3 separate regions of the Homo sapiens genome follow, and regions 1 and 3 are each linked to region 2. The links come from fine-mapping of genetic effects on gene expression. A gene starts in region 2. Each other region holds a variant in brackets. All regions are shown on one strand. Distances are from middle to middle.

Region 1 (11,199 bases), 560 kb after region 2:
CTAGATAGTAAGTTGACTCTTGGCCAAAACCCAGATCCTGTGGCTTCCAGATCACACTGCTTTTTGCTATACCCTCTTCCCGTTTTCCACATGTATTCATTGTTTTTTTTTTTTTCTGAGATGGAGTTTCGCTCTTTCCCCAAGCTGGAGTGAAATGGTGGGATCTTGGCTTACTGTAACCTCTGTCGTCTGGGTTCAAGCGATTCTCCTGCCTCAGCCTCCCAAGTAGCTGGAATTACAGGCACCCACCACCATGCCCGGCTAATTTTTTTTTGAGACGGAGTTTCTTGTTGCCCAGGCTGGAGTGCAATGGCGTGATCTCGGCTCACCACAACCTCGGCCTTCCTGGTTCAAGCGATTCTCCTGCCTCAGCCTCCGCAGTAGCTGGGATTACGGGCATGCACCACCGCACCTGGCTAATTTTGTGTTTTTAGTAGAGATGGGGTTTCTCCATGTTGGTCAGGTTGGTCTCGAACTCCAGACCTCAGGCAATCTGCCCGCCTCGGCCTCCCAAAGTGCTGGGATTACAGGCGTGAGCCACCGCTCCCAGCTTTTTTTTTGTATTTTTAGTAGAGGTGGGGGTTTCACCATGTTGGCCAGGCTGGTCTTGAACTCCTGACCTCAGGTGATCTGCCCACCTTGGCCTCCCAAAGTGCTAGGATTATAGGTGTGAGGCATCGTGCCCGGCCCATTTTTTAATTATTCATTTGTTTATTTTTTTTGAGACAGAGTCTCGCTCTGTCACCCAGGCTGGAGTGCAGTGGTGCGATTTCTGCTCACTGCAAGCTCTGCCTCCCGGGTTCACCCATTCTTCTGCCTCAGCCTCCCGAGTAGCTGGGATTACAGGCGCCCGCCACCACACCCGGCTAATTTTTTGTATTTTTAGTAGAGACAGGGTTTCACCACGTTAGCCAGGATGGTCTCGATCTCCTGACCTCGTGATCGTCCCATCTCGGCCTCCCAAAGTGCTGGGATTACAGGTGTGAGCCAGTGCACCCGGCCCCATTTTTTAAAAAAAAATATTTTTATTATATTTTAATTGTTTTTTTTTTTAATTTTTTTTTATTTCCGTGTTACTGGGGAACAGGTGGTGTTTGGTTATATGAGTAAGTTCTTTAATGGTGATTCGTGAGATTTTGATGCACCCATTACCCAAACAGTACACCACACCCACATTTATTAATTTTTTAATGAACATTTCAACTTGAAAAGATTAGTTCATCAGAATTATGAACTGGTTCTGAAAATTCTCATTTGAGGTTTTTTTTTCCATTTTGACACTAATCAAAAGAAATGAAGTTTTTGTATACTATGTAACCACAAATTATAGGTAGAATTTCCATACAGGGTATATTTTCAGGAAAAATCTGCTTAATTTTAATTTGTTGAGGGTTCCATTTTCTAAAGTGAGAGATAAAATGAGAAACAACACAATATTTAAATGAGTATGTAAATGCAGATATGTATGTAAACATATGTGAAGATGAGGATATTTGTAAAGCTGGTCATTTATCATCCACCTGGTCTTTGCTATTATCTATACTTGCCAAACTCTTTAAGCACCTACTGTCATACCTACCCTAACAGGTTTTCCTGTGGGTAAATCTATTACTCACAAGCTAGTTCAACTTTGGGTTGGTAGAAGAGATTAGAAAGCTAGGAGTTCTTGTTTGTGATTTTTCATGGCCTTAATATGTTAATCAATCTCTCTCTCTTTCTCACCCTCTCTCCCTCCCTCCCTCTCTCTACCCCTCTCTCCCCCTCCTCTTAGGTCAGCACATGTGCCTATATCACCCAGAAGGTGGAGTTTGCTGGCATCAGGTAGATATTACATCACTCTTGCCTTATCTGTGCAGTAACTGGGCTACATAAAGCAGTGGAGGCGTATGGATGTCCATATAATAAAATGTGTAAAAGTATAAAATGTTAGATTGTTGGCTGGCCACAGTGGCTCACGCCTGTAATCCTAGCACTTTGGGAGGCCAAGGTGGGCGGATCACGAGGTCAGGAGATCAGGACCATACTGGCTAACACGGTGAAACCCCGTCTCTACTAAAAATACAAAAAATTAGCTGGGCGTGGTGGCGGGCGCCTGTAGTCGCAGCTACTTGGGAGACTGAGGCAGGAGAATGGCGTGAACCCGGGAGGCGGAGCTTGCAGTGAGCCGAGATCACGCCACTGCCCTCCAGCCTGGACGACAGAGCAAAACTCCGTCTCAAAAAAAAAAAAAAAAAAGTTAGATTGTTGTAGCTCAAACAAACCACAAAATGCACTATAGTAGTTTGAGGCTTATTAATGGAAAAAGTTGATGAAGCCCCCTGGCATTCTGTAAAAAAGGAAGTAGAAAAAAAAAAGGAGATAGAGACTCGTAATTTTACAACTGGAAAAACCCTAGATGCACGTATTGAATCATACTTTCTCATTTTACAAATTAGGAAACAGGTTTAGAAACATAAAATGACTGGCACATTGGCTCCTGATTTGTTACCTTTTTAACTATATTGCTGTACTCTTGATTTATTAAAACTATTTCTATATTTTAGTTTGTGAAGAAAAAAGAGACTTTGTGAAATCCCCTTTAAATTCAAAAAGTGGCTGGGTGTGGTGGCTCACACTTGTAATCCCAACACTTTGGGATGCTGAGGTGGGTAGATTGTTGCTTGAGCCCAGGAGTTGAAGACCAGCCTGGGCAACATAGTGAGACCCCATTTCTACAAAAAAATACAAAAATTAGCTGGGTGTGGTGACACACGCCTGTAGTCCAGCTACCCGGGAGGCTGAGAGGTGGGAGGATCGCTTGAGCCTGGGAGGTAGAGGCTGCAGTGAGCTGGGATCACACCACTACACTCCAGCCTGGATGACAGAGCAAGACCCTGCCTCAAAAAAAAAATTCAGAAAGTATTTCAGGTGCGGTGGCTCACACCTGTAATCTCAGCACTTTGAGAGGCCAAGGTGGGCTGAGTGTGCTTGAGCCCCAGGAGTTCAAGACCAGCTTGGGCCACGTGACAAATAGTCTCTAAAAAAAAGAGAAAAAAAAAAAAAACAGCCAGGCATGGTGGTGTGCGACTGTAGTCCCAGCTACTCAGGAGGCTGAGGTGGGAGGATCGCCTGAGCCCTGGGAGGTTGGGGCTGCAGTGAGACATTATCATGCCACTGCACTGCAGCCTGGGTGACAGAGTGAGACTGTCTCAAAAAAAAAAAAAGTACAACATGCACATAATTAAGCATTCAAATAATTCAGAAAGGTATCTCATGAAATATACATTCCTCTCCCCAGAAACAACTTGTTTCTTTCCTGAAATTTACTGTGTACACACAATCATATTTATGTCTTGTTTTTTTGTTTTTTTTTTTCTGAGACAGAGTCTTGCTCTGTCACCCAGGCTGGAGTGCAGTGGTGGGACCTTGGCTGACTGCAGCCTCTACCTCCTGATTTCAAGCAATTATCCTGCCTCAGCCTCGTGAGTTGCTGGAATTACAGTTACCCACCACCACACGTAGCTAATTTTTTTTTTTTTTTTTTGTATTTTTAGTAGAGACGGAGTTTCACCATGTTGGTCAGGCTGGTCTCGAACTCCTGACCTCGTGATCTGCCCACCTTCGACTCCCAAAGTGCTGGGATTACAGGTGTGAGCTACCTCACCCGGCATATTTGTCTTGTTAACTGACTTGTGGTGATCCTAAGCTTGTTCAGTGGGGTCACAGGGTGCAGTGTAGTCCCTCGTTATAAAGATCCCCATCTACTTTTCTTTTTTTTTTTTTTTTTTGAGACAAAGTCTCACTCTGTCGCCCAGGCTGGAGTGCAGTGGTGTGATCTTGTCTCACTGCAACCTCTGCCTCCCAGGTTCAAGCAATTATTCTGCCTGGGCCTCCTGAACTACAGGCACGTGCCACCATGCCCGGCTAATTTTTGTATTTTCAGTGGAGATGGGGTTTCACCATGTTGGCCAGGCTGGTCTCAAACTCCTGATCTCAGGTGATCCCGCCTCCTCAGCCTCCCAAAGCACTGGGATTATAGGCGTTGAGCCACCGCACGCGGCCCCCATCAACTTTTCACCTAATGGTTTCATCCATTGAGGATTGTTGTAAGATGGTGATTTTCTTTCCTTTTTTTGGTGATTTTTTAATTAAGTCATCCCTTCTACATTTATTAGCCAGAATCCTTCTGTAAATAATTTTTCATCATCAACTAGGTCTATTTGACCAGAATGAAATACTGATCCTAAAAAGAAAGAAAGGATAGAGGCTTCATTTTTTCTCCCAAAAAGGGTATTTTGAAACTTGTTGTGGGGAGCCAGGTAAAATGGCTATGGCGTGAGGATCACTTGAGGCCAGGAGTTCAAACCAGCCTGGACAACATAGTAAGACCTCATCTCTACAGAAATAGTAATTTTTAAAAAATTGCTGGTTGGCTCACACCTGTAATCCCAGCACTTTGGGAGACTGAGGCAGGCAGATCACGAGATCAGGAGATCGAGACCATCCTGGGTAACATGGTGAAACCCCATCTCTACTAAAAATACAAAAATCAGCTGGGTGTGGTGGCCTGTGCCTGTAGTCCCAGCTACTCGGGAGGCTGAGGCAGGAGAATCGCTTGAACCAGGGAGTCAGAGGTTGCAGTGAGCCGAGATCACACCACTGCACTCTAGCCTGGTGACAGAGCAAGACTCCGTCACACACACACACACACACACACACACACACACACACACACACACACACACACACACACACACACAGTTAGGACTAGGTGCAGTGGCTCATGCCTCTAATCCCAGCACTTTGGAAGGCTGAGGTGGGTAGTTTGCTTGAGCCTGGGAGTTCAAGACCAACCTGGCAATATGCTGAAACCCCATCCCTACAAAAAAATACAAAAATTAGCTGGTCATGGTGGCGCTTGTAGTCCCAGTTACTTGGGAGGCTGAGGTGGAAGGATCACCTAAATCCAGGGAGGTTCAAGGCTGTAGTGAGCCTTGATCATTCTGCTGCCTTCTAGCCTGGGTGACAGAGTCAGACTCTGGCTAAAATAACAATAAAAAAAAGAACGGGGGTTGGTGTCAGGGCTCCTCTAGTTTGAGGTACTTGGGAAACAGGTTGGAGGAGCACTGAAGCACAGGTCGATGCTGCAGTGAGCTATTATTGCATTATTGTACTCCAGCCTGGGCAACAGAGTGAGATCCCATCTTTGAAAACAAACAAAAATTTGTTAGCGGGTCAGTGTTCTTTAAAACATCCAAGCAACTAAAGCACAACCCAAGAAGTGACTAAATCTCAAGCAGCACAAAAAATGTAACCAAGGTTTATGCCTCCAGTATCAGCAGATCTCTACTGGATGGGTATCCAGGGTCAGGAAGCCTGGATCTGTATCTGCAGAGCCAGTGTTTAGCCATCACTGTGATTAGTGGTTCGAGTGATGTTGGGTAACTTCGGTAAACCCTTAGTCTTCACATCTGCAAAATGGAGTAGTTGGTTTAGAATATTCTTCTGTCAAGGACCAGTTAATAAATATTTTAGACTTTGTGAGTAGCAATAGATCTCAGGTCTATTGCATATTCTGTGTGTTTCGACCATTTAAAAATGTAACAGCCATTCTTAGCTATGGGCCATATGAAAACAGGAGATAGGCGAGAATTGGCTTGAAGGCTGTATGTAGTTTGCCAGCCTCGGTTTGGAAACCTATTCAGATCTCTCTCATTTTTTTTTCTATTGCTTCCTCTTTTATTTTTAAATTATATATATATTATATATATTATTTCTGAGACAGAGTCTTTCTCTGTTGCCTAGGCTGGAGTGTAGTAGCATGATATCTCCCCACTGCAACCTCTGCCTCCTGGTTTCAAGTGATTCTCCT[A/G]CCTCAGCCTCCTGAATAGCTGGGACTACAGGAATGCACCACTATGCCCAGCTAATTTTTGTTTTTTTAGTAGACACGGGGTCTTGCCATGTTGGCCAGGCTGGTGTCGAACTCCTGGCCTCAAGTGATCTGCACACGTTGGCCTCCAAAAGTGATGAGATTACAGATGTAAGTCACCACGCCTGGCTGATCTCTTTCTTTTTTAAGTTCTTTGTTTCTCTATGTAAATACCCTCATACACACAGTTCTAGATGGAGAAAAGAAAACCCTGACAGATTGTCACTTTTTAACTTTATTTTTATATATTTATTTCTGAGATGGGCTTCCTCTATCGCCCAGGCTGGAATGCAGTTGTGCCATCATGCCTCACTACAGCCTCAACCTCCTAGGCCCAAGCAATACTCCCACCTCAGCCTCCTGAGTAGCTAGGACTACAAGTGCGTGCCAGCATGCCTGGCTCTTTTTTTGTTTTTGTTTTTGTTTCATTATGGTAGAGACAGGGTCTCACTATGTTCCTCAGGCTGGTTTCCAACTCCTGGGCTCAAACGATCCTCTTGGCTCAGCCCCCTAGAGTGCTGGGATTACAGGTATGAGCCACCGCAGCTGGCCTCTTTTAGACTTTTAAAGATCTGTCCTGATATTTTGCTCAGGCTTGGTTAAATGTAAACTACAGTCTTCTATCTTTTCTCCAGAAGACTTACAGTATTTCTACACTGGATCAAAGGTTACTTTCTTTTGCTGACTTCGTGAATGCCTGAGAAAAAAGATGCTGTGGGCCTCCTGTGAGAAAAATAAAGTATAGTCATTTGTATAGTTAAAGTCATTACAAATGGTCAAATAATTTCCCTGCAATTTAACTTTCAATCTGGTAATAGTTACATAGTTAAGAACACATGAGCCGGGTGTGGTGGCTCACGCCTATAATCCCAGCACTTTGGGAGGCCAAGGTGGGTGGATTACCTGAGGTCAGGGGTTCATGACCAGCCTGGCGAACATGGTGAAACCCTGTCTCTACTAAAAATACAAAATTAGCTGAGCATGATGGCAGGCTCCTGTAATCCCAGCTACTCGGGAGGCTGAGGCAGGAGAATTGCTTGAACCTGGGAGGCAGAGGTTGTGGTGAGCCGAGATCGTGCCATTGCACTCCACCCTGGGCAACAAGAACGAAACCCTGTCTCAAAAAAACAAAACAAAACAACAACAACAACAAAAAATATATATATAGTAGCAAAATCTTGTCTCCTGTTGACTAACATTTTGCTTTTAAAAAATAATGACCTTAAACCCTAGCCTGTTGGATCACATTGTAACTTTTTTTTTTTTTTTTGAGACGAGTCTCACTCTGTCACCTAGGCTGCAGTGCAGTGGCGTGATCTTGGCTCTGCAACCTCTGCCTCCCAGGCTCAAGCAATTCTCCTGCCTCAGCCTCTCAAGTAGCTGGGATCACAGGCACCCGCCACCATGCCTGGCTAATTTTGTGTTTTTAGTAGAGATGGGGTTTCACCATGTTTTTCAGGCTGGTCTTGAACTCCCGACCTCAGGTAATCTGCCTGCCTCGGCCTCCCAAAGTGATGGGATTACAGGCGTGAGCCACCACCTCCAGCCACACCAAGCTTGTTTTAGAGGTCCTGTGAATGTGGGGTTCTGACGATTATAAGCAGAGCTGGCTGGGTGCGGTGGCTCATGCCTGTAATCCCAGCACTTTGAGAGGCTTAAGTGGGCAGATTGCTTGAGTCTGGGAGTTCAAGACCAGCCTAGACAACATGGTGAAACCCCGTCTTTACTGAAAATACAAAAAAATTAGCTGGGTGTGGCTGCTTGTGCCTGTAGTTTCACCTACTTGGGAGTCTGAGGTGGGAGAATCGCTCAAGCCCAAGAATTTGAGGCCACCCTGGGCAACATAGCAAGATAGTAGATACGGGGTTTTACCACGTTGGCCAGGATGGTCTCGATCTCTTGACCTCGTGATCCACCCACCTCGGCCTCCCAAGGTGCTAGGATTACAGGCATGAGCCACCGTGCCTGACCTCCTTATTACAATATTAAAGAAATACAAGTCTCTTCTGAGGTCAGGCTTGTGACACTTGTTCATTCACAGACGTAACTGGGCAAAGGAGTATGAAAAAGCATCCCACTTGGTATAAGCCATGGGCCTGGTCCAGCCTTCTTCATTTTGGCATGGGGTAGACCCAGAGGGATTGATTGATTGTCCAGCATTTCCTAGGTAGCCTGAACTATGACTCATGGTACACAGCATTTTCCTGGCTTTTATCTGATTTTGTCTTCCTTCCTTTTTTTTTTTTGAGACAGAGTTTTACTCTTGTTGCCCAGGCTGGAGTGCAATGGTGCGATCTGAGCTCATTGCAACCTCTGCCTCCCAGGTTCAAGCAATTCTCCTGCCTCAGCCTCCCGAGTAGCTGGGATTACAGGCACCTGCCACCACGCCTGGCTAATTTTTGTGTTTTTAGTAAAGACAGGGTTTCACCATGTTGGCCAGGCTGGTGTCAAACTCCTGACTTCATGATCCACCCACCTCGGCCTCCCAAAGTGTTGGGATTACAGATGTGAGCCACTGCACCTGGCCTTTGTCTTCCTTTTTTATGAGGACTGATTGCTTAGGTGAGGCAGGTTGGGAGAAAGAGTGAAATTGGTAGAAGATAAGGGCTTGAGGTGGTTGGTTGAGGGATGATTGATTACACGGTGCTCAGCTAATAGCTACCACTTTCTCTCCAGGATAGCATTTTGTGTTAATACCTGCTGTAGTTCTAGTTCTTGCTAGTAAACTAATTGAGCACGCCCTATCCTCACACTGTCCTGAACAGTTTCCCCACATTATCTGGTTTAATTTGAAAACAGCTCTGTAGAAGGCTGGGCACAGTGGCTCACACCTGTAAACCCAGCAGTTTGGGAGGCCAAGGCGGGCGGATCACAAGGTCAGGAGTTCGAGACCAGCCTGGCCAACATGGTGAAACCTCATCTCTACTAAAAATATAAAAAATTAGCTGGGCATGGTGGCACGTGCCTGTAATCCCAGCTACTCGGGAGGCTGAGGCAGGAGAATCGCTTGAACCAGGGAGTCAGAGGTTGCAGTGAGCTGAGATCGCACCACTGCACTCCAGACTGGGCGACAGAGCGAGACTACATCTCAAAAAAAAAAAAAAAAAAAAGTGAAAGCAGCTCTGTAAGGCGTAGGCTTCATTGTCTCTTTTGTTTTGTTTGTTTTTTTGTTTTGTTTTTTGCAATAGTCTCACTCTGTTGCCCAGACTGGAGTGCAGTGGTGCGATCACAGCTCACTACAGCCTTGACCTGTGAGGCCCAAGCGATCCTCCTACCTCAGCCTCCTAGGTAGCTGGGACTACAGCATGTGCCACCATACCTGCCTAATTTTTTGTATTTTTTATAGCGACAGGGTCTCACTATGCTACCTAGGCTGGTCTCAAGCTCCTGGGCTCAAGCAATCTGCCAACCTTGGCCTTCCAAAGTGTTGTGATTATAGGTGTGAGTCACCGTGCCCGGCCCATTGTCTCATTTTTAAAGATAATGCCACTGAACCTCATGAATTTACTATGGCCATTCACGTAGTAAGTGTCACTCAGCTGGGATTCTTGCCTAGACCAGTTTCTCTTCAGGCCAGTCAAGTCTGAAAGCCATGCTTTACTTTTTCTACTGTACTATTCACTTTTTTTTTTTTTTTTTTTTTGAGGCTGAGTTGTGCTCTTGTTGCCCAGGCTGGAGTGCAATAACACGATCTTGGCTTACTGCAATCTCTGCCTCCGGGGTTCAAGTGATTCTGCCTCAGCTTCCTGAGAAGCTGAGATTATAGGTACCCACCACCATGCCCATTTAATTTTTTGTATTTTTAGTAGAGAGGGGGTTTCACCATATTGGCCAGGCTGGTCTTGAACTCCTGACCTCAGGTGATCCACCTGCCTTGGCCTCCCAAAGTGCTGGGATTACAGGCATGAGCCACTGCACCCATTCTCGTACTATCTACTTCTTGCCCTCAAAAATGCATGGAGGAAAAAACATCATTCCCAAAAATGTAATACCAAGTTGCTATTAGTTAATTATTATTATTTTTTTTTTTGAGACAGAGTCTCGCTCTGTTGCCCAGGCTGGAGTGCAGTGGTGCGATCTCGGCTCACTGAAACCTCCGCCTCCTGGGTTCAAACGGTTCTCCTGCCTAAGCCTCCCTAAGTAGCTGGGTCTATAGGTGCCACCATGCCCAGCTAATTTTTGTATTTTTAGTAGGGATGGGGTTTCGCTGTGTTGGCCAGGGTGGTCTCGAACTCCTGACCTCAGGTGATTCACCCGCCTCAGCCTCTCAACGTGTTGGGATTATAGGCATGAACCACTGCACCTGGCCCTAAGTTTTTTTTTTTTTTTTGAGACAGTCTCGCTCTGTCGCCCAGGCTGGAGTGCAGTGGCACGATCTCAGCTCACTGCAACTTCCACCTCCTGGGTTCAAGTGATTCTCCTGCCTCAGCGTCCTGAGTAGCTGAGATTACAGGCGCATGCCACCACGCCCAGCTAATTTTTTTTTTTTTTAGTAGAGACATCATTTCACCATGTTGGTCAGGCTGATCTCGAACTCCTGACCTCGTGATCTGCCCTCCGTGGCCTCCCAAAGTGCTGGGATTACAGGCGTGAGCCACCATGCCTGGCCAAGAAGCCCTTCTTTAGACCTATATGTGGACTCCCAGATTAAGAGCCCCTGTTCATATTCAGTATAGTATGAGAGTTCTTTATATTGGATAATCTGTTCACGGAGTTCTCTGGAAATCTGTAACCAGTTAGGTCATTTGAGTATAAGTAGCAGAGCCACCTGAAGTTGCCCCTATTTCTTTTTGGTTTGTTTTATTTTTATTTTTTGAGACGGAATCTCACTCTGTTGCCTAGGATGGAGTGCAGTGGCATGATGTTGGCTCACTACAACCTCTGCCTCGTGACTTCAAGCAGTTCTCCTGCCTTAGCCTCCTGAGTAGCTGGGACTACAGGCATGTGTCACCATGCCCGGCTAAATTTTGGATTTTTAGTATAGATGGGGTTTCACCATGTTGTCCAGGCTGGTCTCGAAGTCCTGACCTCAGGTAATTCGCCCGCCTTGGCTTCCCAAAGTGCTGGGATTACAGGCGTGAGCTATTGCACCAGGCATGTATTGGTTTCATGTAAGACTTGTAATAACTTGTGTGTGTATTCTTTCAGAGCACAGGCTGGTGAACTGTGGGTTAAGAATGAGAAGGTCATGTGTGGCTACATCAGTGAAGATACCAGGGTAAGATTTATAAAATGCTTTTTTGGTTTTATCTCTCCATACTATTATGGCTAAGTCCTAAAATCAAAAATAA
Region 2 (6,598 bases):
GTGAAACCCCGTCTCTACTAAAATACAAAAAATTAGCCAGGCGTAGCGGTAGGCGCCTGTAGTCTCAGCAACTCGGGAGACTGAGGCAGGAGAATCGCTTGAACCCGGGAGGCAGAGGTTGCAGTGAGCCGAGATCGCACCAGTGCACTCCAGTCGGGGCGACAGAGCAAGACTCCATCTCAAAAAAAAAAAAAAAGCAAAATACCTTTAAAAAATTTCTTAAAATCATCATATCCAATCACATTGTTCAGATTTCCCTAGTTGTCTCATAACTTGTGTAGTTTCAATTGAGATCCAAATCAGTTTCATACATTGCTATTATTTGTCTCTGAATTTTTTTTTTTTTTTTTTTTGAGACAGAGTTTCACTTGCCGCCCAGACTGGAGTGCAGTGATGCGATCCCAGCTCACTACAGCCCCCGTCTCCCGGGTTCAAGTGATTCTCATGCCTCAGCCTCCTTGGTAGCTGGGACTACAGGCGCCCGCCATCATGCCTGGCTAATTTTTTGTTTTTTTGTGTGTGTGTTTGTGTGACAGAGTCTCGCTCTGTTGCCCAGGCTGAAGTGCAGTGGCGGGATCTCGGCTAACTGCAAGCTCCACCTCCTGGGTTCACACAATTCTCCTGCCTCAGCCTCCCAAGTAGCTGAGACTACAGGTGCCCGCCACCACGCCCGGCTAATTTTTTTTGTATTTTTAGTACAGACGGGGTTTCACCATGTCAGCCAGGATGGTCTCAAGCTCCTGACCTCATGATCCACCCGCCTCAGCCTCCCAAAGTGCTAGGATTACAGGGGTGAGCCACCTTGCCTGGCCTGTCTATGAAATTTTTTCTACTCTGCAGTTTATCTGTTAAAGAAACTAGGTTATTTGTCCTGTTGCATTTCCCACAGCATCATTTTTGCTATTTGCATCATGGAAATGTTATTAAGCTCCTCTTCTCCATGTATTTCCTGTAAGTTGGTTGTTAGATCTAGAAGCTTGACCAGATTCAAGCTTATTATTTTTGTTTTGTAAGACTACGTCATAGGTGATAGTATATACTTGGTGCGTCTTACCTGGAGGCACTTAATGTCTGGTAGTCCTACTTTGTGATGTTACAGATGCCACTATATCATTTAGAGTTGAGAAACAAGACTGCACTCTGGGCAGAGTGGGGCACAAAATTACAGAGAACCTGGAGAGCTGGTTGTTGTAGGAATGGCAGGTGGCGCAAGGCAGGATGTGCTCAGGAAAAAGCAGAGTCCTGGAGTGAAGGGAATAGGGAGACAAGTCCGCAGGGTGAGATGTAGTCAGCTCATGAGGACTGGTTTGGCTTTTATTTTGTAGGCAGTGGGGTGCTGTTGAAGGGTTTTGAACAGAGAGATGACAGGTCCAGAAACATACTTTTGGAAGATTAACACAGTCAGTTTTGGGTAGGATGATTCAGGGAGGGCAGAGACTGGCTCAGTTTGAAGCAAGTGGAAGTGACACTGGGCAAGTCTGGTTGGGTACCAGTGGACCAGTACCTTCAAGAGGGCAGAACCTTGAGTTGTTTTTCAAGGTCCAGGTTTCAGGATCCTAGGCTCAGAGAGTTGACTGTGAGGCGGCTGGCAGGATCTGGCCCTAGGGACTGACCAAGCTATGGCCAGTGAAACAAACTGTGGACAGGTAACCTGGGTGCTATTGAAACTCAGTTGGTCTACTCCCTGCCCAGGCTTTCTCTACCCTCCAGAAGTCCCCCTTGAGTTCACAAGTGATTTCTGGAATGTTCTTTGGGTCCATATTAAAAATATATCTCTTGGCTATAGCATTTCTATAGAAAGCTATTCCCTTCCATTACATTTTCAACTTGTGTTTCTCAGAGTCGCCTGAACTTCCCTGGGAGGAACTTGGGGGACTTGGCTATTCCCCAGCTCCCTGCTGGTGAAGACCATGAGGCTGGAGGTAGGAGGAAGTGGAATGTGAGAGAGAATGAGGAGGGAGAAGAGATAGACCTGGGTGCCTTGGTGTGGAACGGAGGGAGAGGGAAGACACCCAGGAGGTTTTGGTTCCCAGGATGCCAGTGCTTTGTTGCCTGGGAAAATACAGTGTTACATCTTTCTGTAGGAAGGATGGGGAAAGTCCCTGTCCCCTGTTTGCTAGCCATGAGGCAGCTTGTCAGGAGAGTCTCTGGATTCCTGTCACTTTAATTCAATACACAATCTTGTGTTTACTATAATGATTTCCTCAGAAACTACAAAACTGAGTACTGAAAAGAGTTCCCAGGAATTAACGGAAATGGGACAGAGCCCTCCTCCCCAGCACTTTGTGCACACTCAGGACATCGTGAGCCACCTGCCACACCCAGAAGAGAAAAATCTGACCGGCATCCGGTTTGAATTAGAGCAGGAAGGAAGAGAATTGTGCTCGCCTTTGTCTTTGCCTTTGCCTTTGCTTACCCAACTGCTGGGACCAGAGGCAGCTGGGTTGAACTTTGTCTTTGGTCAGGGGTGGGGGTGGAGGGGACAGAATCCATTTCCCTGGGCTCCATCCTCTTTCTGGTCATTTGGACATGTTTCCTGTGATCTAAATCTGATGTAAGGAAATGACAATTGTGAAAGACCCAGCGTGAGAGAATCTGATGGGAGGGTGGGTCATCAGGGACCAGCTGGCCTGGCTGATGATGTATTAATATCTTAATCACACAGAGGACCCCAATCTCCTTCCAAACCTAATGAGCGGAAGTGGTTCTCAAAGCTACTCAGCCAGCTAGCAGCTGCCATAACCCAGTCAGCTGTCCTAACTCTTAGTCCTGTAATCCCTCCTCCTCATAGAAGATTGTAAACTGGCAGCCCACAGGGCAAATCTAGTGGCCAGGTGTGTTTCATTTGGTCTACATGGCATTTTAAGAACTTTTTGATGCTATCAACATTTTTTAAAAGTGGCAAATTTCACCTAAATATCTGGATTTTTGGCATGTTTTGAAAGGTTGGAAGACCTGGGAATGGTAGGCCCATGTTCCTGCAGGGGAGTGCTCGTCTTCCAATGCGGCGCACAAGCTCCAGCGTCCTGCGCTAAACCTAATTGGCCTGGCTGAGGATCTGCTCCTGGAATGCTGGTTGGTCGCCTCCAACTGTCTTTGACTTAGAGATTATTTACTGTCAGCTTACTCATAGTGGCGCAGAGAAGTGGTTTCTCTGAGCTAGAAGCTTCTAAGAAAAGTCCATCCTCAAAGCTGTTTGTGGGATAGACCTGGCTCCTCCATTGTAATATTCCTGATTCCAAACACTACTGGAAAGAGCTCTGAACTGGCAGTTAGCAGGCCTGGGCTCCCATCCCGGCTCTCCTCCTAATGAGCGAAGCCATTTCAATGTAGTCGAACTTAGCCTCTGATCCTTAACTTTCCCTATCTGTAAATGAGGGCGACTAGATGGGTGCGGACTGTCATCCGTGTTGAGACTTCCGGCCCCCGCAGAATCAACCTTACCGGCGGGAGCACCTCGAGGGGACGCCGCTCGCACTAGGGGGCGCCAGGGCCGCTGCAGAGCCCGAGCCAGAGCCAGGGGGCGGGGCCGCGTCTCGGGAGCGAGGCCTGAGAGCGGCGGGGCGGGGCGTCGGCGGGCAGTCCCCTGTGCCAGGTGTGGTTTGGTCCTCCCAGGGCGCCGTAGGCGGTGCATCCCGTTCGCGCCTGGGGCTGTGGTCTTCCCGCGCCTGAGGCGGCGGCGGCAGGAGCTGAGGGGAGTTGTAGGGAACTGAGGGGAGCTGCTGTGTCCCCCGCCTCCTCCTCCCCATTTCCGCGCTCCCGGGACCATGTCCGCGCTGGCGGGTAAGGAAGGGCTGCTCCGCCCTGTCCCGCTGTTATCTCCGAAGTCCGGTTCCATGGCGCCTGAGGGAAACCGGCTGTCTCTCGGGGGTTTCGGGCTGGTTGGGTCCTCGTGGGTCCGAGCTCCTCAGAAAAGCTGGGAGGCGGGGTGGGCACAGCGCTCCCCAGGCATTTGGAGGGTGGGACTCCGGGAATGGGGAGGCAGGGCATCCTGGAGACAGAGGGCTCCGAGGGGCAGGCGGGTTGGGAGGCTTCCCGCGAGTTGAGGTCCCGGGGAGGAAGAGATTCTGGGTCTGCCAGGAATCCAGCTTTTTGGAGGGACCTGGCGGCCGCAGACCCCCAAATTAACCCTTTTTAAGGAAGTTGAAAAGCATGGGGTTCTCTTATAGTGGAAGCTCTGTGGAATTTGAGGAGTACAGGATCCTCTAGGGTTCAGGACAATTAGGAGAGTTACCCCGGGTTCTGGGTTTTCTGAGGGAAATGGAGGATGTGACTTCCCTGCCAAGACCCAAGGCTTCTCGCGGGCATCTTGGTGTCTGGGAGTCCCCCGGGGCTGGGAGCTCTTTGCAGAAAATAAGGGAGTATGGAGCCCCTTGAGGTTTAGGACAGGACTAAGGGTAAGGAGAGATCGGACCATTCTTTTTGGGGCCCAAAGATCTCTGCTACAGGTGGCGAAAGTAGGCCACCTGGGGTTCTGAGTCCTCCTGTGGAAGCTCCCTTGGCCTCTCTAGACTAAAGACTAGAGGGATTCGGCCAAACACCTCCTGGAAGGAAGAGTTGTCTAAGGGTGAAGGGTAGCTTCAGAGTTGGGTTAGTTGCACCTGCAGTCACCTCCCCGCCACCTCACACACCACCCTGCAGCTTCCTGCCTTCCCCATCTTTTCCCCCAGCAGTAGGAACCTTCTGTCTCCTATGTTTCCCAGCCACCTGTGTGGGTGGCCCACCTCTGGGTCCACCAGGGTCAGCGTCCAGAAGCTTTGGAGAGGCGGCAAGAGGGTATTGAGGTGGAGGGGGGCTGGCTATCTGCCCCCTGCTTCCTGGCTTTCCGTCTGTGGACAGTCACTTCCTTCATCTTGAATGCAAGGACTGGGCTACCAGTGGGTCACTTCCTCAGCAAGGGAGCATGGGATTTTCTCTTCACTGGTGATAACAGACTTCTGGAGAGAGCTAGGGGTGGAAATGCCTAAAACAAATTTTTTTAGGCTGGGCGTGGTGGCTCATGCCTGTAATCCCAGCACTTTGGGAGGGCAGGGCAGGAGGATCGCTTGAGTCCAGGAGTTTGAGACCAGCTTGGGCAATATAGCGAGACTTCATCTCTTAAAAACAAAACCTTGTCTCTTAAAAAAGATTTTTTTTAAGCTTACAGAGTCCTTCAACTCGAATGATTTCCAGTAACTTTTTTTTTTTTTTCTTAGATGGAGTCTTGCTCTGTCGCCCAGGCTGGGGTGCAGTGGCACAATCTTGGCTCATTGCAACCTCTGCCTCCCGGGTTCAAGCGATTCTCCTACCTCAGCCTCCCGAGTAGCTGGGACAACAGGGGCCCGCCACCACGCCCGGCTAATTTTTTTGGTATATTTAGTAGAGATGGGGTTTCACCATATTGGCCAGGCTGGTCTTGAACTCCTGACCTTGTGATCCGCCCGCTTCGGCCTCCCAAAGTGCTGGGATTACAGGCGTGAGCCACCGCACCCGGCCGATTTCCAGTAACTTTTTCTAACAGCTGTGTAATATAGGTTGCCTGTCTTGAACCCTGTTTCTTAGAAAATTGTGAAAGGTTTCACAGTACAATAGTCTAGAGGCATAAAGCCTCTAGATGCATTAGTTTATGCATTCTTTCTTTCATTCAAAGAATATTTGTTGGATTCTTCTGTGTCATATACTTAGCCAAATGCTGAGTACAGTGGTGACATAGTTCTTGGCTTTGTGGTGCTTAATAATCCTAGAGATGGACAATAAATAATTGTAACAATTGCAATAAATGCTATAATAGTTAAGGTAAACAATTGAGATAAGTGCTGTAAGAGTGCACCAGGGGTGAGGGTTTTCTCTACTTTTTTTTCTGTTTTGGTAGAGACAGGGTCTCACTATGTTGCCCACGGTGGTTTCAAGCCATCCTCCTGTCTCAACCTCCCAAAGTGCTGGGATTACAGGCATGAACCACCATGCCCATCCTCTACTTTTTTTTTTTTTGAAGGGAATACTTTTCTTAAAAATGCAAGTTTATGCTGACCCCTGGAGATAAGTAAAAGTTAGCCTGGCAAAAAAAGCTCACAGAGCATTCCAGGCAGAGGAAACAGCATAAAAAGGCCCTAGGGTAGGAAGGCATGTAGTGCCTTTGAGCCTTGGAGCTGGGAGGTCAATATGGTTTTTTGATTTTTTTGTAGGGGGTGGGGAGGAAGAGTCTTGCTCTGTTGCCCATGCTGGAGTACAGTGGCGCGATCCAGACTCACTGTACCCTCCACCTCCCAGGTTCAAGTGAATCTTCTGCCTCAGCTTCCTGAGTAGCTGGGACTACAGGCAAGTGCTACCACGCCCAGCTAATTTTTTGTATTTTTATTAGAGACGGGGTCTTACCATGTTGCCCAGGCTGGTCTCAAACTCCTGAGCTCAGGCAGTCCACCCGCCTTGGACTCCCAAAATGCTAGGATTATAGGCGTGAGCCACCATGCCCAGCCAAGTATGGCTTTTTTATAGATGAGGAGACAGGCCCAGAAATGACAAGGTTCCATAGCTAAATGAGCAGTGGTGGTCAGAGTTCATATTTTCCAACTTCAAGTTTAGTGCTTCCTCCTCTCTGTAGCACAAAAAGCAGAATGAA
Region 3 (11,199 bases), 150 kb after region 2:
ACATGGTGAAACCCTGTCTCTACTAAATATACAAAAATTAGCCAGGCGTGGTGGCATGCACCTGTAATCCCAGCTACTCGGGAGGCTGAGGCAAGAGAATCACTTGAACCTGGGAGGTGGAGGTTGCAGTGAGAGGAGATTGTGCCACTGCACTCCAGCCTGGGCAACAGAGCGAGACACCGTCTCAAAATAATAATAATAATAACAACTTTGTTAAGCACTATCTGTGCCAGCCATAGTGCTGAGAGCACTCCTTGGTTTACCCTCTGGAATCCTCACAACAACCCTATGAGGCACTTACTCTGATGATTCCCATTTTACTGGTGTGGAAACTGAGGAATGAGCAGATAGGGAAGGGAGAGGAAGGCCCAAAGCATGCTGAATAGCAGGTACCTCTGCCTGCTCCAGGGGCTTTCAGCACAAATCCAGGCTGCCAGGCTTTATTGAGGACCTGATGGGAGGAGGAGATGGAGGGAAACACAGGAATGAGGCACCCTAGTTTCTGCCCCACTCGCCTTTAGCCTTTATCAGTCTTTCTTAGAAGGCATGTGAAGCCAACCGACTTTCTTTGCTCACTTCAATGCTGGGCTGTTCAACTTCTTAATAACAATAGCAACAAGACCATTCCTTGAACAATCATGGCACTTCAAGCATGAATGGAGTTGTTTTGGAGCCAGACAGACACAAGTTCAAGTTCAAGGTCTGCCCTTGCTGATAGTTTGGCTTTGGGTGAACAGTGCCAGAGGTTCATTTAACCCCCATAGCCTCTCTCTGAGGGTAGGATCATTGTCCCTGCCTTTTGTTTTTTCAGAGACAGGGTCTCTGTCACCCAGGTTGGCATGTACTGTCACCATCATAGCTCACTGCAGTCTGGAATGCTTTGGACTCAAGTGATCCTCCCGCCTCCACCTCCAGAATAGCTGGGACTCTGGGTTATGCCACCACGCCCAGATCATTTTTACAAATGTTTGTAGAGATGGAGTCTCACTATGTTGCCCAGGCTGGTTTCAAACTCCTGGCCTCAAGCAGTCCTCATGCCTCACCCTCCCATAGGGCTGGAATTACAGATGTGAGCCACTACACCCAGCCATTGCCCCCTGTTTATAGGTGAGCCAACTGGAAAGTTAGTTGGTTCATCCACGCCTGCCCTCGTGAAGGTTGTGCGGTCCAAACTGAGCGCAGGTCTCCCTGATTCCAACAGCCAGGTTCTTTCTCCAGCACCTTGGACCCCTTTTCTTTCTCGACAGTTGGGTTTCCTTCATGACTGGGAGGAGTGGGCAAATCTTCCACCTCACACGGAGGCCTAGCTCCTTCAGCTACACAAGGATCTTGCAGGAGGGAGAGGCTCAGCAGTTCCTGCTTCCCTGCTCCGTCCAAGTTATCTCAGCCCCTCTGTGCTGTGGTCTTCAAGGCCCGACTGGGACCCAGTAGGCCACGGTTTATCATTGGCCATGTTTCCTGCCTCTGCATCACTAGCAGAGACTTTAACACTCTTTCTTTTCATTAATCAGGCACAAAAAGGAAAAAAAAAGTCCTCATGTGTAATTGTTTGTATTTCTATACTTTAACCTGGGAGGATTTTTTTGTTTTTTTGTTTTTTTGAGATGGAATTTCGCTCTTGTTGCCCAGGCTGCAGTGCAGTGGCATGATCTCAGCTCACTGCAACCTCTGCCTCCCATGTTCAAGCAATTCTCCTACCTCAGCCTCCAGAGTAGCTGGGATTACAGGCGCCCGCCACCATGCCCGGCTAATTTTTGTATTTTTAGTAGAGATGGGGTTTCACCATTTTGGCCAGGCTGGTCTCTAACTCCTGACCTCAAGTGATCCGCCCGCCTCGGCCTCCCAAAGTGCTAGGATTACAGGCGTGAACCACCGTGCCCACCCCAGGATTTTCTTTTTTGTGCCTGATTACCTGAAGGAGAGAGAGTCAAGGTATCGCTGGTGACACGGGGGCAGGAAACATGGCCACACACATACATACACGTGAAAGGCAACTGTCTAACTGAAGAAAATCAGCTGCACATTACAGAGAAAGAGTTAATGTCCAGAAGTGCCTGAAGGTCTTCCTGGAGGTTGCCCGTGAGCCAAGATCACACCACTGCAGTCCAGCCTGGGTGACAGAGTGAGACTCAGTCTCAAAAAAAAAAAAAAAAAAAAAGTCATAGTGCTCGCATGAGTTAAGCTTTTAGGTGAGATTCCTGAGTGACATTTGATTCAACAGCAGTGTATAAAAACACTAGGTCCTTCCCATGTTGGGTTAGCTGTAATGGTGGTTAGTGAAATGTCTGACAATTTGAGAGCCAAAATGATTTTTTCATTTATTCATTCAAGAAGTATTTATGGGTGTCTTATTTGTGCCACGCACCGTGCTGGGCAATGGAGATGCTGTGGGGACAAGATATTTGGGGTCACGTCTGTAATCCCAGCACTTTGGGAGGCTGAGGCCGGCAGATCACCTGAGGTCAGGAGTTCAAGACCAGCCTGGCCAACATGGTGAAACCCCGTCTCTACTAAAATTACAAAAATTAGCCAGGTAAGGTGGTGTGTGCCTGGAATACCAGCTACTCGGGAGGCTGAGGCAGGAAAATCGCTTGAACCCAGGAGTCGGAGGTTGCAGTGAGCCAAAATCACACCATTGTACTCCAGCCTGGGTGACAACAGCGAAACTCTGTCTCAAAAAAAGAAAAAAAGAGGCCAGGCACGGGGGCTTAAGCCTGTAATCCCAGCACTTTGGGAGGCCGAAGTGGGTGGATCACCTGAGGTCAGGAGTTCAAGACCTGCCTGACCAACATGGTGAAATCCCGTTTCTACTAAAAATATAAAAAATTAACTGGGCGTGGTGGCGGGCACCTGTAGTCCTAGCTACTCGGGAGACTGAGGCAGGAGAATCACTTGAACCTGGGAGGTGGAGGTTGCAGTGAGCCAAGATCGCATCGCTGCACTCCAGGCTGGGTGACAGACTGAGACTCCATCTCAAAAAAAAAAAAAAAGAAAAGAAAAGACGTTTAATTGACTCATGGTTATGCAGGCTCTATAGAAGCATGGTGCTGGCATCTGCCCAGTTTCTGGTGAAGACTAAGGGAGCTTTCAATCATGGCAGAAGGCAAAGGGGGATCAGGCAAGTCACATGGTGAAAACAGGAGCAAGTGAGAGTAGGTGCCACACACTTTTATTTTTTAATTTTATTTTTAAAAATTTTTGTATTTTTTATATTTTGAGACAGAGTCTCGCTCTTTCACCCAGGCTGGAGTGCAGTGGCATGATCTCAGCTCCCTGCAACCTCCGCTTCCCAGGTTCAAGCAATTCTCCTGCCTCAGCCTCCTGAGTAGCTGGGACTACAGGCACATGCCACCATGTCCAGATAATTTTTTTTCTTTCTTTCTTTTTTTTTTTTTTTAGACGGAGTCTCACTCTGTTGCCCAGGCTGGAGTGCAGTAATGCTATCTCGGCTCACTTCAACCTCCACCTCCCAGGTTCAAGTGATTCTCCTGTCTTAGCCTCCCAAGTAGCTGAGATTACAGGCACCCATCACCACCCCCAGCTAATTTTTGTATTTTTAGTAGAGATGGGATTTCACTGGTTGGACAGGCTGGTCTCGAACTCCTGACCTCAGGTGATCCACCCACCTCAGCCTCTCAAAGTGCTGGGATTACAGGCGTGAGCCACTGCACCCAGCTGTTTTTATTTTTATTATTTTTTGAGACAGGGTCTTGCTGTGCCAACCAGGCTGGAGTGCAGTGGCACAATCTCAGCTCACTGCATTCTCTGCCTCTGGGGCTCAAGCGATCCTCCCACCTCAGCCTCCCGAGTAGCTGAGACTACAGGTGTGCACTACCATGCCTGGTTAATTTTCGTATTTTTGATAGAGACAGGGTTTCACCATGTTGGCCAGGCTGGTCTCCAACTCCTAAGCTCAGGTGATCTGCCCACCTCTGCCTCCCAAAGTGCTGGGATTACAGGCGTGAGCGTGAGCACAAGCCCAGCCTATTTTTATTTTTTGTTAAAGACAGGGTCTTGCTCTGTCACCCAGGCTGGAGTGTGGTGGTGCCATCACGGTTCACCGCAGCTTCTACCACCTCCTTGGCTCAAGCAATCCTCCCTCCTCAGCCTCCAGAGTGACTGGGACCACAGGTGTCAGCCACCACACCTGGCTAACTTTTATACTTTTTGTAGAGGGGTTTTACCATGTTGTCCAGGCTGGTCTCAAACTCCTAGGCTGAAGCGATCTGCCCGCCTCGGCTTCCCAAAGTGCTGGGATTACAGGCGTGTGCCACTGCGCCCGGCTAATTTGTGTATTTTTTGTAGAGACAAAGATTTCATTACGTTGCTCAGGCTGGTCTCAAACTCCTGGGCTCAAGCCATCTGCCCGCCTTGGCCTCCCAATGTGCTGGGATTACAGGCGTGAGCCACTGTGCCCAGCCTTATTTTTCTTTTTAATGTTTATTTT[C/G]TCCATCAAATATAATTTGGAAAATGAGGCAAAGCAGAGGAAACGATAATAAATTATCCATAGTGTCTCACCACTTAAATAGAAGTACTAAAATGTTGGTATATTCTTTCTTTCTTTCTTTTTCTTTCTTTCTTTCTTTCTTTCTTTCTTTTTCTTTCTTTTTTTCTTTCTTTCTTTCTTTCTTTCTCTCTTTCTTCCTTCTCCTCCTCCTCCTTCTTCTTCCTCTTCCTCTTCTTCTTTTTCCTCCTCCTCCTTTTTCTCTCTCTCTCTGTTTTTTTCTTTTCATGGAGTTTTGCTCTTGTCGCCCAGGCTGGAGTGAGTGCAACGGCGCCATCTCAGCTCACTGCAAACTCCACCTCCCAGGTCCAAGTGATTCTCCTGCCTCACCCTCCCGCCTGCCACCATGCCCAGCTAAGTTTTGTATTTTTAGTAGAGATGAGGTTTCACCATGTTGGTCAGGCTGGTCTTGAACTCCTTGACCTCAGGTGATCCACCTGCCTCAGCTTCCCAAAGTGCTGGGATTACAGGCGTGAGCCACTGTGCCTGGCCAAATGTTGGTATATTTTCATCTTGACTTTTTTTTTTCAGTTTCAATGCACTGTTGTTAAAAATACTACTAATGAATATATGCTTTTTTTTTTACATTAAGAAATGAGTGTCTCACTTTATCGCCCAGGGTAGAGTGCAGTGATGAGTTCATAACTCATTGCAACCTGAACTTGTGGGCTTGAACAATTCTCCTACCTCAGCCAAGTGAGTAGCTGGGATTACAGGCACCCACCACCACACCTGCCCTCTCCTGCTTCTTAAATGAAGCAGTATATTATGAATATGTTGCAGATTAACACTGGGACTGTAGGTAAGTGTGTTTTGGGGCCACTTTCACTTTTTATCTTAAACACTTTCATAGTGTTTTATTTTATTTTTACAACGCAAATGGTTACTTTTGTCATTTGAAAAGCAATAGAGGCGCCAGGCACGATGGCTCACACCTGTAATCCCAGCACTTCTGGAGGCCAAGGTGGGTGGACCACCTGAGGTCAGGAGCTCGAGACAAGCCTGACCAACATAGTGAAACCCTGTCTCTACTAAAAATACAAAAATCAGCCAGGCATGGTGGTACATGCCTGTAAACCCAGCTACCTGGGAGGCTGAGGCAAGAGAATCGCTTGAACCTGAGAGGCAGAGATTGCAGTGAGCCGAGATCGTGCCATTGCACTCCAGCCTGGGCAACAAGAGTGAATCTCTGTCTCAAAAACAAAAACAAAAACACTTATATAGTGTTTTATTTTTACAACGCAACTAGTTACTTTTGTCATTTGAAAAGCAATAGAGAGGCCAGGCGTGGTGGCTCACACCTATGATCCCAGCACTTTGGGAGGCTGAGGCGAGTGGATCATGAGTTCAGGAGTTCAAGACCAGCTTGACCAACATGATGAAACCCCGTCTCTACTAAAAATACAAAAATTAGCCAGGTGTGGTGACGCACACCTGTAATACCGGCTACTCAGAAGGCTGAGGAAAAGAGAATCGCTTGAATCCAGTGGCGGAGGTTGCAGTGAGCCGAGATCGCACCACTGCACTCTAGCCTGGGCAACAGAGCAAGACTCTGCCTCAAAAAAAAAAGAAAAGAAAAGCCATAGAGAACCCATAATATCATGAGTACCTTTCAAGTCATTACATAAAAATTAAAAATAAAATAAGTAAATATTAAAGAAATCTTATTTTCACGGGCTGCAAAGCTTCCCGACTGGATGATTGGTTGTATCTTGATCTTGATTCTCTAACGGTTTCTCCTGTGGAACACTTAGGTTGTGTCCTTTTTCATTTTCTTTGCTATTATAGATAGCACTGAGAAGAACGTCTTTGCACATCATACATACCAGAAGCTTTAATATGATAATCTGATTTCATATGCTGGACTAGAAATGGAGAAAGACAGCTTGTGGGGCGACGAGTGCTGCTTTTATGAGGCGTTTTCTACTGGAGGTGGGAGGTAAGTAGATTGGTGGGGGAAAGGAGCTTAAAACAACAGTATTCTGAAATTCAAAATTTAGATTTAAAATAAGAATTATGAGCCGGCCATGGCGGTTTATGCCCGTAATCCCAACACTTTGGGAGGCTGAGGGTGGGGCAGATCACTTAAGGCCAGGAGTTCGAGACCAGCCTGGCCAACATGACAAAACCCAGCCTCTACTAAAAAAAAATATATATATATATTAGCTGGGTGTGATGGTGCGTGCCTGTAGTCCCAGCTACTCGGGAGGCTGAGGCACGAGAATCGCTTGAACCCAGGAGGCAGAGGTTGCCGTGAGCTAAGATTGCGCCACTGCACTCCAGCCTGGGTGACAGACGAAGACTCTGTTTCAAATAAATAAATAAAAAGAAGAATCGGGGCCGGGCACGGTGGCTCACCCCTGTAATCCCAGCACTTTGGGAGGCCGAGGGGGGCAGATCACAAGGTCAGGAGATCGAGACCATCCTGGCTAACATGGTGAAACCCCATCTCTACTAAAAACACAAAAAATTAGCTGGGTGTGGTGGCGGGCGCCTGTAGTCCCAGCTACTTGGGAGGCTGAGACAGGAGAATGGCGTGAACCCAGGAGGCGGAGCTTGCAGGGAGCCGAGATCGTGCCATTGCACTCCAGTCTGGGCAACAGACTCCATCTCAAAAAAATAAAAATAAATAAATAAAAAGAAGAATCATAGCCGAGTGTGGTGGCTCACACCTGTAATCCCAGCATTTTGGGAGGCTAAGACAAGAGGATTGCTTGAGCCCAGGAGTTCAAGATCAGCCTGGGCAATATGGCAAGACCGTGTGGCTACAAAAAAATTTTTTTGTTAATTAGCCAGGCAAGGAGGCATGAGCTTGTGGTCCCAGCTACTCGAAAGGCTGAGCCAGGAGAATGGCTTCAGCCCAGGAGGTTGAGGCTGCAGTGTACTGTGTTTGAACCACTGCACTGCACTCCAGCCTGGGTGACAGAGTGAAAAAAAAAAAAGAATTATTAGCTAAATGAGCCTCAGGTCCATTCCAGCTCAGGAATTTGGAGTGTTTTATTGTCATCTGTCTCAGGTCCAGGCTAGAGTGAGGGGTAGGTGGAGATACAAGCAGAAGGTTGCAGTCCACAGTCCACATTCACAAAAACACTTCCAAGCCCCTTGAGATTCCCTCCTGGGTTGACTCCCCAGCTCCCTCCTGTGCAGACCTGACTTTGCAAGATTCATGTGAAGAACCTGGAGAGTCAAGGTGATAGAGTCAGCCTGCATCCTCAAGGTTTGGGGCCTCACTTGTCTCTGAAAATCAATTTCTTTTCTTTTTCTTTCTTTCTTTTTTCTTTTCTTTTCTTTCCTTTTTTTTTGAGACAGAGTTGCGCTCTGTCACCCAGGCTGGAGTGCTGTGGAGTGATCTCAGCTCACTGCAACCTCTGCCTCCCGGGTTCAAGCAATTCTTGTGCCTCAGCCTCCCAAGTTGCTGGGATTACAGGCATGCAGCACCATTCCTGGCTAAGTCTTCCATTTTTAGTAGAGACATGGTTTTGCCATGTTGTCCAGGCTGGTCTTGAACCCCTGACCTCAAGTGATCTGCACACCTCAGCCTCCCAAAGTGTGGGAAATTACAGGCATGAGCCACCGAGTCTGGCCTGAAAATCAAATTCTATCAACTGAGGTGGAGCTTGGTTCTGAACCCACTTCCAGCTTTGTAATTTGGGGCAAATTTACTTAACAGCCCAGAACCTAAGAGGTTCTTTATTTGAGGGAGGGTCTCACTCTGTCACCCAGGCTGGAGTGCAATGTCATGATTACAGCTCACTGCAGCCTCATCCTCCTTAGCTCAAGCAGTCCTCCTGCCTGAGCCTCCCAAGTAGCTGGGACCATAGGCATGTGGCTCCACACCCAGTAAAAAATTTTTTTTTTTTTTTTTTTTTTTGTAGAGATGGAGTTTCACTAAGTTGCTCAGGCTGGTTTCAAATTCCTAGGCTCAAGTGATCCTCCTGCCTAGGCTTCTCAAAATGTTAGGATTACAGGAGTCAGCCAGCCACCAAGCCTGGTGCCTAAGGGGTTCTTATAGAAATGAATGAGAATATTATTATGCACATCGTAAATGCTTAATCAGTGACAGCTATTTGTTGTTGTTTGCAATTCAGTGTTAAATGCTGTGATGAAAGAAGCACAGGAATTACAGAAGTCATATTAAATATGATAGGACCTAGCCTGGGGCATGGGGGCAGGCTTCCTACAGGATGCCACAATAAAATTCTGACTGGTGAAGAAGAAAGGCCCTGGGGTATTTCTTTTCTGACAGCTGGATCTTTCTAGGTGAGAATGTAATATATTCAATGCCAGGTGATTCCCAAACCTGTGTGTGTGTTACAATCCCTTGGGGTGAGGGTGGGGAGGAAGTGATAGGTTACAAAAGATTCTAGAGGCACCAGCCCAATCGGAAGTGCTATATGAGGTACATATTATTCTATGTGAGGCACTTCGCATAAGACGGCTCTCAACCTTCATATCAGGAACAAGGATTCCTAGTTTTCTGGTTCCTGGCATGTGCTCTAAAAGAAATGCAGGGCTGCCCAGGCGTGGTGGCTCATGCGTGTAATCCCAGCACTTTGGGACGCCGAGGAGGGTGGATCACTTGAAGCCAGGAGTTCGAGACCAGCCTGGCCAACATGGTGAAAACCCGTCTCTACTAAAAATACAAAAATTAGCCGAGCGTGGTGGCATGTGCCTATAATCCCAGCTACTTAGGAGGCTGAGGCAGGAGAATTGTTTGGATCTGGGAGGTGGAAGTTTCAGTGAGGTGAGATCGAGCCACTGTACTCCAGCCTGGGAGTAAGACTCCGTCTCAGAAAAAAAAAAAAAAAATGAAAACAAAACAAAACTGCAGGACTGGGACTTGGGACACAGCTGGAGTCTTCAGTTTTTGCTTTGTTATGCTCTTATCATTCTTACCAGCTCAAATAATTATTTATTTTTTTTAAATTATTGTGGTACATAGTAGGTATATATATTTACAGGTACATGAGATGTTTTGATACAGGCATCCAATGTGAAATAAGCACATCATGGAGAATGGGGTATTCATCCCCTCAAGCATTTATCCTTTGAGATACAAACAATCCAGTTACACTCTTTATTTTTAAAAGTACAATTAAGTTATTATTGACTATAGTCACCCTATTATGTTATCAAATAGATTTTATTCATCCTATTTTTTTGTACCCTTTAACCATTGAATTTTTTTTTTTTTTTTTTGAGACAGAGTCTTGCTCTGTTGCCCAGGCTGGAGTGCAATGGTGCAATCTCAGTTTGCTGGAGCCTCAACCTCCTGGGCTCAAGTGATTCGCATGCGTCAGCCTCCCAAGTAGCTGGGACTACAGGCATACACCACCATGCCTGGCTAATTTTTGTATTTTTAGTGGAGACGGGGTTTCGCCATGTTGGCCAGGTTGGTCTGAAACTCCTGGTCTCCAGTGATCCACTCACCTCAGCCTCCCAAAGTGCTAGGATTACAGGCATGAGCCACCATGCCTGACTATATTTTTTATTTATTTATTTATTTTGTAGAGAGAGGGTCTCACCATATTGCTCAGGTTGGTCTTGAACTCCTGGTCTCAAACAATCCTCCCGCCTCAGCCTCCCAAAATGCGATAATTACAGGCGTGAGCCACCACGCCCAGCAAAGTCTCCAGTCTTTGTGACCCTAGTTAAGTCCCCTCCTTTCTCCATGATTCAGTTTCCTCATCTGTAAAACAAGGGAATTGATCTAAATTAGGAGTCTCAAACTCAGGTGTTTCTAAGGGCCAGGGTAACTTGGTGAGATGTGTGGCACAAATGGGAACTACAGGGCTGAAGAAGGCACCACAGCAAAGGGGAAAACAGGCTGGACACAGCAGCTCAGGCCTGTAGTCCCAGCACTGTAGGAGGCCCAGGAGGGAGCCCAGGAGTTGGAGACCAGCCTGGACAACATAGAGAGCCCCTTGTCTCTACAAAAAAAGGGGGGCAGCCAGAGTCCAGCCTGTGAACCCAGAAGTATCTGATTTAGATCTCAATCAATTTAGAAAGTTCATTTTGCCAAGGTTAAGGACGTGCCCATGACACAGCCTCAGGAGGTCCTGAAGACATGTGCCCAAGGTGGTTGGGGTGCAGTTTGCTTTTATGCATTTTAGGGAGACATGAGACATCAATCAATATGTGTATATGTACATTGGTTCATTCTGGAAAGGCAGGACAACTGGAAGGAGGGGCTTCCAGGTCATAGGTAGATAAGAGAGACAAAGGGTTGCATTCTATTTTTTTTTTTTTTTTTTTGAGAGAGTCTCACTGTGTCACCCAGGCTGGAGTGCAGTGGCTCGATCTCCACTCACTGCCACCTCTGCCTCCTGGGTTCAAGTGATCCCGCTGCCTCAACCTCCCAAGTATCTGAGACTACAGGCGCGTGCCACCACACCCAGCTAATTTGCATTTTTAGTAGAGAGACGGGGTTTCTCCATGTTGGCCAGGCTGGTTTTGAACTCCTGGACTCAGGTGATCTGCCTGCAGTGGCCTGCCAAAGTGCTGGGATTACAGGTGTGAGACACCATGCCCGGCTCCAAAGGGTTGCATTATTTTGAATCCTTGATCAGCTTTTCCCTGAATCCACAATTTAGTTTGGCTCAGTGAATCTGCATTTTTACATAAACAGTAGGGCAGAGGAAGCAATCAGATATGCATTTGTCTCAGGTGAGCAAAGGGATGACTTTCTGTCTGGC

Which allele goes with the higher level. Alleles are on the strand shown, and positions count from the first base shown. SD is a standard deviation of normalised expression in the study named. Not every link is listed here.
As copies of G replace C in region 3, the expression in cerebral cortex of the gene that starts at base 3,657 in region 2 goes down (small effect, 0.23 SD a copy in GTEx).

The links. PIP is the estimated chance that this variant, and not a neighbour inherited with it, causes the effect. A credible set is the group of variants that fine-mapping cannot tell apart.
Region 1: its variant is the best candidate, but not a certain one, in a credible set for the expression of LIMK2 in whole blood (TOPMed, PIP 0.50).
Region 3: its variant is the best candidate, but not a certain one, in a credible set for the expression of LIMK2 in cerebral cortex (GTEx, PIP 0.60).

Annotation. Positions count from the first base shown.
Region 1 is chr22:31,767,043-31,778,241 of GRCh38, forward strand. It overlaps DEPDC5 (DEP domain containing 5, GATOR1 subcomplex subunit), which reads left to right. Exons shown (of 43, transcript NM_001242896.3): 7 at 1,772-1,821; 8 at 11,057-11,126. Among named protein-coding and RNA genes, the nearest start is that of DEPDC5, 19 kb to the left of the region's middle. The variant A/G (reference allele first, on the strand shown) is at 5,852.
Region 2 is chr22:31,208,642-31,215,239 of GRCh38, forward strand. LIMK2 (LIM domain kinase 2) reads left to right here and starts at 3,657. Exons shown (of 16, transcript NM_005569.4): 1 at 3,657-3,783. The coding sequence starts at 3,768. RefSeq lists enhancers at 3,198-3,377, 4,340-5,265 and a silencer at 3,358-3,757.
Region 3 is chr22:31,351,628-31,362,826 of GRCh38, forward strand. No RefSeq gene overlaps it. Among named protein-coding and RNA genes, the nearest start is that of LINC01521, 10 kb to the left of the region's middle. The variant C/G (reference allele first, on the strand shown) is at 4,448.